3 linked regions of the Homo sapiens genome follow. The protein of the gene in region 1 interacts with the protein of each later gene in a biochemical or structural test. Each region holds a gene or a part of one and is shown in the gene's direction. Other genes may lie near its edges.

Region 1 (3,749 bases):
TGGGCAGGAAGGGTGATAGCGGCCGGGGGTAGGGGAGTGGGGGGAGGGGGGCAGCTGGGGGAGCGGTGCAGCTTCCTGGTAGGCCAGGAGCTAATGGATCATCTCTGCACCAGGACGCACCCTCGGCTCTGGGGCCTTTGGGCAGGTGGTGGAGGCCACGGCTCATGGCCTGAGCCATTCTCAGGCCACGATGAAAGTGGCCGTCAAGATGCTTAAATGTGAGTAGTCCTTGGAGCCCTCCACATCTGGGCCTTCACCTCTCCCTGCCCCTCCCCACACACTTAGCCTCTCCCAGGGTGGCCTGATGCTGATTTGCAGGCACTAGAGGGGCCATCACACTGCAGCAGGCACTGCTCCCGAGTCTGGGTCTGGTTTGGGAAAGAGCGTTCCTCTCCCTGGCCTCCTCGGCCTGCTTCCCCCTACCCTGGCCTCTTCCCCTCCTCAGAGTGTGGGTGCTCACCCCCGCCAGGCTGCCTGGGTCTTGCAGCACAGGGCGGGGCAGAAGAGTCAGAATAGGCTCCTGTGGTGGGGCCTCCATGGAGCCTCCATGACTGGGCCTGGCCTGGGGCCCCCATTTTCCTCAGCCACAGCCCGCAGCAGTGAGAAGCAAGCCCTTATGTCGGAGCTGAAGATCATGAGTCACCTTGGGCCCCACCTGAACGTGGTCAACCTGTTGGGGGCCTGCACCAAAGGAGGTACCGAGCCCACTGCCCCAGAGGCCTCAGGGAAAGTGCCCACCACCAAGGCCAGGCCCCGCCTACCCCCCCCTCAGGCCTTGCACAACAGCACACTCCTGCTGGAGGGTCCGTGCCCACCCGCTCCAGCGCCCTCACTGCGCGGTCCCAGAGGGCGGTGGGGTTTAGAAACTCACAAAATCACAACACCTTCAAGGCTGAAGGATTAGTCAGGTCACCAGTCCCAGCAGCTTCCAGACCATGGTGTTGGCTGACACTTTTTTATTTTCCCAATACATTTTGAAAACCAATAAATAACAGCTCACATGACATTAAGATGAGTTATATGCCCACCATTGGAGACCACCAGCTTGCTACTTGGGAGCTACCTTCATTTGATCATAGAAGAAAGTCTCTGTGGCCAACTGGGTCTATTTGAAGCTCTGATTGCCAGTTAGGCTGAAAAAAAATGTTATCACCATTTGCAGCTGCTTATTGTGAGATTTGGGATTTTCCTCAGCATTATGCAACCAAAATAAAATACAGAAGTATGTTGGGTACATAGACTTATTCACGTTTGCAATGATCGCTCATTTCAACATTTTCGTTTGTGTAGATATCTTCAAGTTCTCACTGATTGACTTTAAGTAAATGCATTGTAGTTGAATTTAACTACTAAAGTGATCGTTGTAAACAGTGGCCTTTATCTGCTTTCTATACTGGGCTCCAAAGTAAGCTTTAGTTTGAAAACATATCAATAAGAGCCAACACTGCGAGCTCGCCACGTGCCCAGCCAATAAAGACATCATCTCATTAATCCTCATGACAGTGCTTTGTGGTGGGTTTAATTAGCCCCACTTAACAGCTGGGGAAGGTAAGGCTCAGGGAGACTAAGTACCTTGCTCTCCACCACAGAGGCAGGAAAAGAATCCAGATTTGCAAGGCACTAAAGCCTCCTAGCCGTCATGCCAAAGTGTCTCTCCCACATCCAGCCCCTGATTAGCCTCATGGCCTTGAAGGGACGCCTGAGGCCTCCATAGGGACTGTCCCTGAGCCTGTCCCTCTGCAGGACCCATCTATATCATCACTGAGTACTGCCGCTACGGAGACCTGGTGGACTACCTGCACCGCAACAAACACACCTTCCTGCAGCACCACTCCGACAAGCGCCGCCCGCCCAGCGCGGAGCTCTACAGCAATGCTCTGCCCGTTGGGCTCCCCCTGCCCAGGTACCAGGAGGGAGGCCAGGGACTGAATCTTTGGGATACCTGAGGAGCACCGCTCCTTCCCCTCCTTTTGTCCAGGAGGGGAAGCTGAGGCTGTGACAGGGCAGGGGACAGAATCACTCCTGGAGCTAGGGCTGTTCCACAAGATGGTCCACCCCAGATGAGGGAATAACACTAATGCCAGGCCCTGTGCTGCTAAGCCCTCTACAGATGTGACATGCCATCCCTGTGTCGTGGGTGTTTGCCCTTCAGTCCAGGGCAGGCAGTGATGGAGGAAGGGGCAGAGGCTGTGGTGAGATGAGAGCCAAGCCTCCCAATTTGCACAGTGGTGCTCCAGGCTGTGTTCCTCTCTGCAGCCTCTACACATCAGCCTCCACACTGCCTCTCAGGGAGCTCAACTCCAGTCTTTGTCTTTTCCAAAAAGAACACTTCTTAGTTCTGTTGCTGATTACAAAAACAAAGACAAGAGTAGCTTCAGAAAAGCGTAAAAGACCTTAAAACCCACTCATGTCCTCTCCAATGTTTTGACATTCAGTCTCCCAGGAGCCAAAGGGCTTCTCCCATCTTTTTCCTGCCTATAGAGACAGATGTGTGTAGAGCCCCACAGCTCTTTGGGGAGCTGATGCTACAGGCATAGGTAGCGGGGTGAATCCTGGCTGCCTATGCTGGGTTGCAGTCAGGCACTCCCATGGCCAGGTGGCGCTGGGGAGGCCACAGGAAGGCGCCTCTGAACACACCCGTCTTGTGACCTTTGCCCTGGGGTGCTGTAATCGCCTCTGGGTGTGAGCTCTCTGGGTTCTAACTGTCATTTTGGTAGCCTCAGTGCCCAGCTTGGCCCAGCAGGTTGGTTGAAAAGTCTTGATCCACAGGCTTTCCTACTGGGATAGACTGAAGGAAGATGAGTGAGTGTGTGAGTGAGAGAAGAAATTCATGAGTGGCAAGGGGCAGGAGGGGAGGGGAAGGCAAAGCCTGCAGGCTCTCCTGTGATGCTCCTTTACCCCCAGCCATGTGTCCTTGACCGGGGAGAGCGACGGTGGCTACATGGACATGAGCAAGGACGAGTCGGTGGACTATGTGCCCATGCTGGACATGAAAGGAGACGTCAAATATGCAGACATCGAGTCCTCCAACTACATGGCCCCTTACGATAACTACGTTCCCTCTGGTGGGTGGACATAGTGACATAGTACCCCACATCCAAACAGGCTGATGCTCTTCACATGCCCAGCCTTGCCAAAAACCCTGAGAAGAAGGGAGCCTCGTGCCCATTTCATAGATGTAGAAATTGAGGCTAGCCACCTGGCCAAAACTGATCTGTAGTGGACCCCTAAACGGAAGCCCTGTTTATGGATCCGGAAACATGCGTAGAACCCTCAGGGAGGGAGAGAGCAGGGATATGGGAGGACCTGGCCTTTTGTCGTGGTAGGGAAAGTGATCTACTCAGCTTCAGCCCCAGGCTGGTCTAGTGTCCCTGAGAGGCAGGCAGGCAGGCCAGGCTGGGCAAAAGTGGCCCAAGGGCTAATGCCAAAAGGCCAATGAGGGCACTGATAAAGCAGGAGAACTTTGAGTTTGATATTAAGAAATCATTCTCCTTTTAGGGGAGACCTAGACGATCAGTAGCCACCTGTCTTGGACATTCAGTCTCCCAGGAGCCAAAGGGCAGGGGTCCTGTGGGCCAGAAGGAGATATAAGATAGCAGGTGACCCTCTGCTTCTCCTCTAGCCCCTGAGAGGACCTGCCGAGCAACTTTGATCAACGAGTCTCCAGTGCTAAGCTACATGGACCTCGTGGGCTTCAGCTACCAGGTGGCCAATGGCATGGAGTTTCTGGCCTCCAAGAACGTACGTGT
Region 2 (3,749 bases), on another chromosome or scaffold:
GGACAAGTCATGGAAAAGACACAGCTCTGTTTGGACATTAATAAGGGCGGGTGTGGAAGCTGGAAAGCTGAGATGCCGGAAGGCTCAGTGCTTAGTAGGCCCGGAAAAGCAATTTTTGAACTGGCATCTCATTCCCCTTTTCTAAGACAGGAAGGACGGTCAGAGATGATTCCAACATGAGGACTTTGCTAGTTGCAGTGTCTGACTCCTCCCATTCTCATAGCAGTTTTGCACAGTAGTTTTGGTTTGTGTGTATGTTTTAGGCAATGTGACAAAGCAGTTTTCCTCCTGCCTCCTTGAGAAATTTAATCCTGACAGGTTCTTTAAGAAATCAGCTTGATGTGGGCTGATTTTAAAAGAATAAATGAAAAAAAAAAGCTGGTGACTGATAGCTGTTTTATTGGTCTTGTAGTGTTTTGGTTTTGTTTTATCTTCACTTTCTTGTTTCCTGGTGAATAATAACTGGGTTTATTATCTCTCATGGCTAATCCTTAAGCCTGATTCCTTACCTGTTCCATCCAGAGTACAAAGTATATTTTGACTCCTCTTTAAACTGCTTGTTAGATTCTCATATGAGTGACTTTAAATATTTTTGTTTTGCTTCAGGACAACGGGAAAACCAAACGATTATGTTTTGTTTGCAGACAGTTTACGAAAACAGCAAATTGGTTTATGGTTAGACCGTGACTTTGAGCTGACTTCAAGTTGGGCCCCACGATAAAGATAACCATGGAATACCCAAGCTTTCCTAAGCAGAGAGGATCCTGGCTTCCAAATGAGCAATTTTGGTCAGCAAAGGGGTTATTTAGCTCCTAAAAGTAATTTTTGCTTGAGGTTGGGGCTGAGGCAGAGTGGCTGAACAACCGTAGGCCTGGGTGTAGCCAGAGGATCATCAGTAATTACTTCTCAGTTCATTCACTTCTTGGGCTAGGGAATTATTTTGAGTGCAGGATAAGAGGCAATTTTCTGTGTGTTTCCCTTCTAATATAATGCCACTGATGATATTATAATTAATAGGTAACATTATGCATGACAGGCACTGTGTGCTAAGGGTTTTAATGCATTATTTCATTTGGCCATTTCAGAAATACCAAGAGGTAGGTGCTGTTCTTGTTTATTTGTTTGTTTTTTTTTTTGATAGGGAGTCCCACTCTGTCACCCAGGCTGGAGTGCAATGGTGCAATCTTGGCTCACCGCAACCTCCACCTCCTGGGTTCAAGTGATTCTCTTACCTCAGCCTCCCGAGTAGCTGGGATTACAGGCGTATGCCGCCATACCTGGCTACTTTTTGTATTTTTAGTAGAGATGGGGTTTCACCATGTTGGCCAGGCTGGTCTTGAACTCCTGACCGTAGGTGATCTGCCTGCCTTGGCCTCACAAAGTGCAGGGATTATAGGCGTGAGCCACTGTGCCCGGCCTTTTTTTTTTTTTGAGATGAAGTCTAGCTCTGTTGCCAGGCTGGAGTACGGTGGTGTGATCTTGGTTCACTGCAACCTCCGCCTCCTGGGTTCCAGGGATTCTCCTGCCTCAGCCTCCCAAGTACCTGGGATTACAGGCACGTGCCGCCATGCCCAGTTAATTTTTGGATTTTTATTAGAGACAGGGTTTCAGCATGTTGGCCAGGATGGTCTTGATCTCCTGACCTCATGATCTGCCCACCTCGGCCTCCCAAAGTGTTGGGATTACAGGCGTGAGCCACCGTGCCCGGCCTGTTTTTGTTTTTAAGAGACAGGGTCTTGCTTTGTCACCCAGGCTGGAGTGCAGTGGTACAAACGTAATTCACTGCAATCTCAACCTCCTGGGCTCAAGGGCTCCTCTCGTTTTAGCCTCTCAAGTATCTGGGACTAAAGGCGTGTGCTACCATTCCTGGCTAATTTTTTTTTTTAATAGAGATGGTGTCTCGCTATGTTGCCCAGTCTGGTCTTGAACCTCTGGGCTCAAGTGATCTGCCCACCTTGGCTCCCCAAAGTGTTGGGATTACAGGCATGAACCACTGCACCCAGCCATGTTTTTATTTTATCTGAGAGAAAACTGAGGTTCAGAACTTAACTGTATACTTCTGGAATCTTCACAGAGAAATAAAAAAAAAGAAAAATAATTTACTATAGATTCATTAACTACTACGTGGCGGAGCCAGGGCTGATGTCTCCACTGCCCCAATTTACCATCCTGTGCTGTAAAAAGTCATGGAGAAGGTTTTCTGTGTGCAGCTAAGAGAGGAGGTGGCAGACATTTATTTATTTATTTATTTATTTATTTATTTATTTATTTATTTATTGAGACGAAGTCTCACTCTGTTGCCTGGGCTGGAGTGCTGTGGCACGATCTCGGCTCACTGCAACCTCCATCTCCCGGGTTCAAGCGATTCTCCTGCCTCAGCCTGCTGAGTAGCTGGGATTACAGACGTGCGCTACCATGCGCAGCTAATTTTTGTATTTTTAGTAGAGATGAGGTTTCGCCATGTTGACCAGGCTGGTCTTGAACTCCCAACCTCAGGTGATCCGCCCACCTCGGCCTCCCAAAGTGCTGGGATTACAGGCCTGAGCCACCGCACCTGGCCCAGACATTTTTTAGACAGTCTTGCTGTGTTGCCCAGGCTGGACTCGAACTCCTGGGTCCAGTTGACATCCCTCTTCATCCTTCCAAGTAGCCAGGACTGCAGGGACATGCTACCTTTATTTTGGGTTCTTTGTGTCCTAAACCCTGTATGATCTGCTCCATTTGTAACACAGAGAACCCAGGTGCCCTCTTTCCTGCTTATATTTCTTTGGGGCCTCAGTTTACAAGGCAAGTCTGCCTTTGTGGAGATAGACTGGGGTCTGGGATGGAAAGACCTGGGTTTGGGTCTTTGCTCTGCCACTGCATAAACTCAGCAAGTCACTTAACCTCTGTGACTTCTCATTTCCTTATCTGGAAAATGGGACTAACACTTCCTGCTTCACTGGGTGGTTGAGAGGATCAAATAAGATAGAAAAGGAATTGCTACGTAACACCTAAAGCAAGGCCCAACTGCTAGTTGTGGCTGCTGCTGTTACTTGGAGAGAAGAAATGAGGCCCCAGATCATTAGTTCATATGACAATTTTTTCTTTTTTTAAGACGGAGTCTCACTCTGTTGCTTAGGCTGGAGTGCAGTGGCGTGATCTCCACTTACTGCAACCTCCGCCTCCCGGGTTCAAGCAATTCTACTGCCTTAGTCTCCTGAGTAGCTGGGACTACAGGCACGCTCCGTCATGTCTGGCTAGTTTTTGTATTTTAGTTGAGACGGGGTTTCACCACATTGGCCAGGCTGGTCTTTAACTCCTGACCTCAGGTGATCCACCTGCCTTGGCCTCCCAAAGTGCTGGGATTACAGTCTGAGCCACCACGCCTGGCCCATATGACAAATATTTATGAAGTGTTTTCCACAGAGTAGTATGGAATAACTCTGGGTGTGTGCAAGATGAACTGAGCTCAGTCACAATACTTTTTTTTCCCCTAATGTTAAGAATTATTGGCTGGGCAGGGTGACTCATTCCTTTAATCTCAGCACTTTGGAAGGCAGAGGTGGGAGGATCAGGTGAGCCCAGGAGTTTGAGACCAGCCTGGATGACAAAGTGAGACCTTGTCTATACAAAAAATTAGCTGGGCATGGTGGTGTGGACCTGTGGTCCCACCTACTTGAGAGGCTGAGTTGGGAGGATGGCTTGAGCCCTGGGAGGTTGAAGCTGCGGTGAACCTTGATAGCGCCACTGCACTCCAACCCAGGCAA
Region 3 (3,749 bases), on another chromosome or scaffold:
AGCTAAAATGTGATTTCGTGTATCTTGTTCCATGCCTGAGTTAAGGCAACTCAGAAGAAGGTCGTGACGGCCTTTTAACGGGCTATCAAAAGTGTGCAGCTAAAGCAAAAACAGTTTTGCATTTCTTTAGGCCATTTAGTAGCACAATTAAAAAATTAGACTCTTTTCTTTTCCTGCATTTTCCTTTGAACATTTCCCAAAGTATGTTTATTTCTAAAGGTAAATGAACGTTAGCAAGTATTACCTCTGCCCAGTGACACACATCCACATGTGTACTGGCACATACATTCCTACCTCAAGAATCTTAGTCCTTGAAACTGTGGAAATGAAAGTTATTTTGATTGAGGTAGCAGTGTCACAGTGATGTCATACGGTGTCACTGTCCCTGACCAGCCTCTGTGTTCCCTCTCAACTCCTTGGCTCAGTCTCCTCCGTGTCCTGAGTTCTTACTCATCCCAAGGGTCGTCTCTTACTTCTTTTCTTCCCCACATCTTATCAACTCCAAACTAGAGGGGATGGCATCATCTTTAAACTTCCACAGCACTTTCTTTGTGTCCCTGATTTGTCATCTGTGACATTCTTTCCTGCAGTTGTTTTTTTTCTTTTTTTAAGGCAGGGTTTCACCCTGTCACCCAGGCTGGAGTACAGTAGCATGATCACAGCTCACTGCATCCTCGAGCTTCTGGGTTCAGGCAATCTTCCCACCTCAGGCAATCTTCCCACCTCAGCCTCCGAGTAGCTGGGACTACGGGTGTGCACCACCATGCTCAGTGAATTTTTTTATTTTTATTTTTATTTTTATTTTGTAGAGACAGGGTCTTGCTGCTTTGCCAAGGCTGGTCTCAAACTCCTGGGCTCAAGTGAGCCTCCTGCCTTGACCTCCAAAAGTACTGGGATTACAGGCCAGAGCCACCATACCCTGCCCTATGGTTTTTTTGCCTTCATCTTTTCTTTACTAGATTCTGAACCGCTTGGGGGCAGACTGGTCTTGCCACTTATACACAATGAGTGTGCAACAAATACTTATTGAATATGTGAATAATGAGTGCCCAGCCTGTTAATATTGGGGCTCTAGCCTCCCACTGAGATTCAAGTGGTAAGAGACCTCCAGCATTCTTGTAAATCTCAGAACTTCTGTCTACTGTGGAAGGCTTTGACCTCAGGATGTCCAGACAATGGGAGAATTTGGTCTGTTGGCCTCTCTATTTGGCAAATTTTCTGTCATGTGAGTCATTTGTAGTCCTGAAGCTACATTTAAAAACAACAACAGCAACAACAACAACAAAAAAACAAAGCCAACCCCATACTCAACTGTATTACCTGGTGGGCTGGCTGAATGGTTTACTTTTGTAGGTTAGTCTGTTCCTATCAACCTGAATTCAAAACGCTGGGCAGACCGTTTGTGATCCTGGCCTGGTAAGTTAGTTATTTGTGTCACCCCTTCTTTCTACTGTTGTATTGGTAATGTTTTTAAGAGAAGAAGCTTCAAGTGCACTCAGAATTTTAAGTATTGCAGTTGCTTCTTTTGAGACAATTTTGGAAGCTGGGGTGCTTACGTTGCCAAATTGTTAGTGAAGACCGAAAATGCCATGATGAGAGAATGACATGTACTAATGCATGCACGCTCATTCATTGTTTGCAAAGTCCTCTTCACATACACCATCATATTTAATAGTCGAATAACATGGTGCACTTGGTTCTGGCCCTCATTTCTAGGTAGGAGACTGGGGATGACAGAGCTTGAATTTAGGTTAAGTCCTTCTGCAGGCCATACATGAGGAACACCAACGTGTTGCTGGGTAGAGTTGTTTTTTTGTGAGGCAGTTTACAGAACACAGTGTCCTTGGGTATCTGCCTTTGCCGTGTCGCAGCTGTGTGTAGATATTGGTGGAGCAGATTCTGGATGTGAGTTGACTGAGGTTGAGCGGTGTGAGGGGAGGCCGGCAGGAGCAATGTCAGTCTCTCTTGTCCCCACATCCTGGTTATGGGCCAGGGTTACCCTGGAAAGCCTCCTCAAGTTCAGAAAGCTTATTCCTGTTTAGTGCGTGTATTAGTCAGCTCCAGCTGCCTTAAGAGAATAACACACAGAGGCCGGGCGCAGTGGCTCACGGCTGTAATCCCAGCTACTCGGGAGGCTGAGTCACGCGAATTGCTTGAACCCAGGAGGCGGAGGTTGCAGTGAGCCAAGATCACACCACTGCACTCCTGGGTGACAGCGTGAGACCCTGTCTCAAAAGCAAACAAACACACACACACACACACACACACACACACAAAACAACAACAACAGAATGGGTGGCTAAAGCTGCAGACATTTATTTTCTCACAGTTCTGGAGGCTGGAAGTCCATGACCCCGGGGCCGGCAGGGCTGGTTTCTGGTGAGTGTCTCTTCCTGGCTCGTCTTCTTGTGTCCTCACTCACGTAGCCTTCCTTCTGTGAGTGCACTGAGAGAGAGGTCTGGTGTTTCTTCCTCTTATAAGAACATCTGTCCTGTTGGATGAGGGCCCCACCCTTATGGTGACCTTTTTTAACCTTATTTATGACCTTTTTTAACCTTAATTGCCTCCTGAAGCGTCCTGTCTCCAAATATAGTCACTTAGGGGTTAGGGCTTTACCATATGAATTTAGGGTGGACAATTCAGCCACTCCCAGTGTGTCTGTCTAGGTTCCACAACAGGGCTGATGCTTTTAGGAAGACCTGGTGCTCCCATCATCCAGATCTGGGATCTCTGTTTATTTGGGGACACCTACCAGGGATGGTTAGAGTAGTCACAAGTAAGGAGGGAACGTCAGCTCTTTATATATTGGTTGTAGCACCCCATAACAGGGAACAAGCCTTGGTGCTGGCCTTCCAAAGGCTGGAAAGGTTTTAAGTAGAGTGATTGAAGAGAGAGAAAAATCTTGACTTGATTTCATTTATGGAAACTTCTCTTCAACTTAGGTAGGTAGACACTTATTTGGGGGTTGGTTTGTCTTTAATTGAGACCATGATAAAATATCAGTGATATGCAAAGGAAAGTTTTTTCTGAACCCTGGATGAAGAGAGCAAAGCAAGAGGTGGGGCCAATGGCAGCCAGGGTGGAGAGGCCGTCTCCTCTGAGCCTGCCATCTCTGTGATCGTGCAGTCTTTGCCACATGAGCAAACATCCCTTAGCAGAATGTGCATGACGGTGGTGAGGTGCACCCTGAGCGTGGCTGGAATGTTTCTGACCTAGGCCATTTTGCCTTGTTCAGACATAAGGCAGGGGCAATGCCTGCATGACTGACCTCCCTCTAGCTCCAGATCTGTATGTTCATTGATGCTTTGTTTGCTCATTCATTCACATTCATATGAATTATCCAAGTTCTTAGTGGTCATTTCCACCATCCCAAACCATTTGCAGCTTCTCCTGCAACCTGCCCGCCTTCTCAGTTATATTCCCCATCACCGACTCACTCGGTTATCCTTGAATTCTCCCTCAGCTCCCAACTAGTTATCAACCCCTATTGATTCTACCTCCAAAAGATCTAACATCTCAGCCCTGCTGTCCTTTTTCTGTTTCCCCTGGACATCAAAACCACTTTTTAACCATTCCTGCCAATCCATCCCAGGGTGACTGCACCCTGACAGTCAGGTCTGGCCATGACCTGCACACGGTGGCTCTCCATCGTACTTGGGTCAGTGACTCAAGTCCCCAGCATGGCAGTCATGGGCTTGCACGACTGGGCTGCCTCTCTGTTTCTCCCAGCATCTAAATATCCCCTTCCC

The links.
Region 2: of the proteins of PDGFRB (region 1) and PTPRJ, one has a biochemical effect on the other in vitro, tested with the Homo sapiens proteins (2 studies listed by IntAct).
Region 3: the proteins of PDGFRB (region 1) and NCK2 form a complex in vitro, tested with the Homo sapiens proteins (2 studies listed by BioGRID).

Annotation. Positions count from the first base shown.
Region 1 is NC_000005.10:150,121,196-150,124,944, reverse strand, and holds part of PDGFRB (platelet-derived growth factor receptor beta isoform 1 precursor), read left to right. Parts: intron 1-113; coding exon 114-218; intron 219-584; coding exon 585-695; intron 696-1,743; coding exon 1,744-1,903; intron 1,904-2,904; coding exon 2,905-3,065; intron 3,066-3,622; coding exon 3,623-3,741; intron 3,742-3,749. UniProt on the Homo sapiens protein: Tyrosine-protein kinase that acts as a cell-surface receptor for homodimeric PDGFB and PDGFD and for heterodimers formed by PDGFA and PDGFB, and plays an essential role in the regulation of embryonic development, cell proliferation, survival, differentiation, chemotaxis and migration.
Region 2 is NC_000011.10:47,983,441-47,987,189, forward strand, and holds part of PTPRJ (receptor-type tyrosine-protein phosphatase eta isoform 1 precursor), read left to right. Parts: intron 1-3,749. UniProt on the Homo sapiens protein: Tyrosine phosphatase which dephosphorylates or contributes to the dephosphorylation of CTNND1, FLT3, PDGFRB, MET, KDR, LYN, SRC, MAPK1, MAPK3, EGFR, TJP1, OCLN, PIK3R1 and PIK3R2. Plays a role in cell adhesion, migration, proliferation and differentiation.
Region 3 is NC_000002.12:105,747,794-105,751,542, forward strand, and holds part of NCK2 (cytoplasmic protein NCK2), read left to right. Parts: intron 1-3,749. UniProt on the Homo sapiens protein: Adapter protein which associates with tyrosine-phosphorylated growth factor receptors or their cellular substrates. Maintains low levels of EIF2S1 phosphorylation by promoting its dephosphorylation by PP1.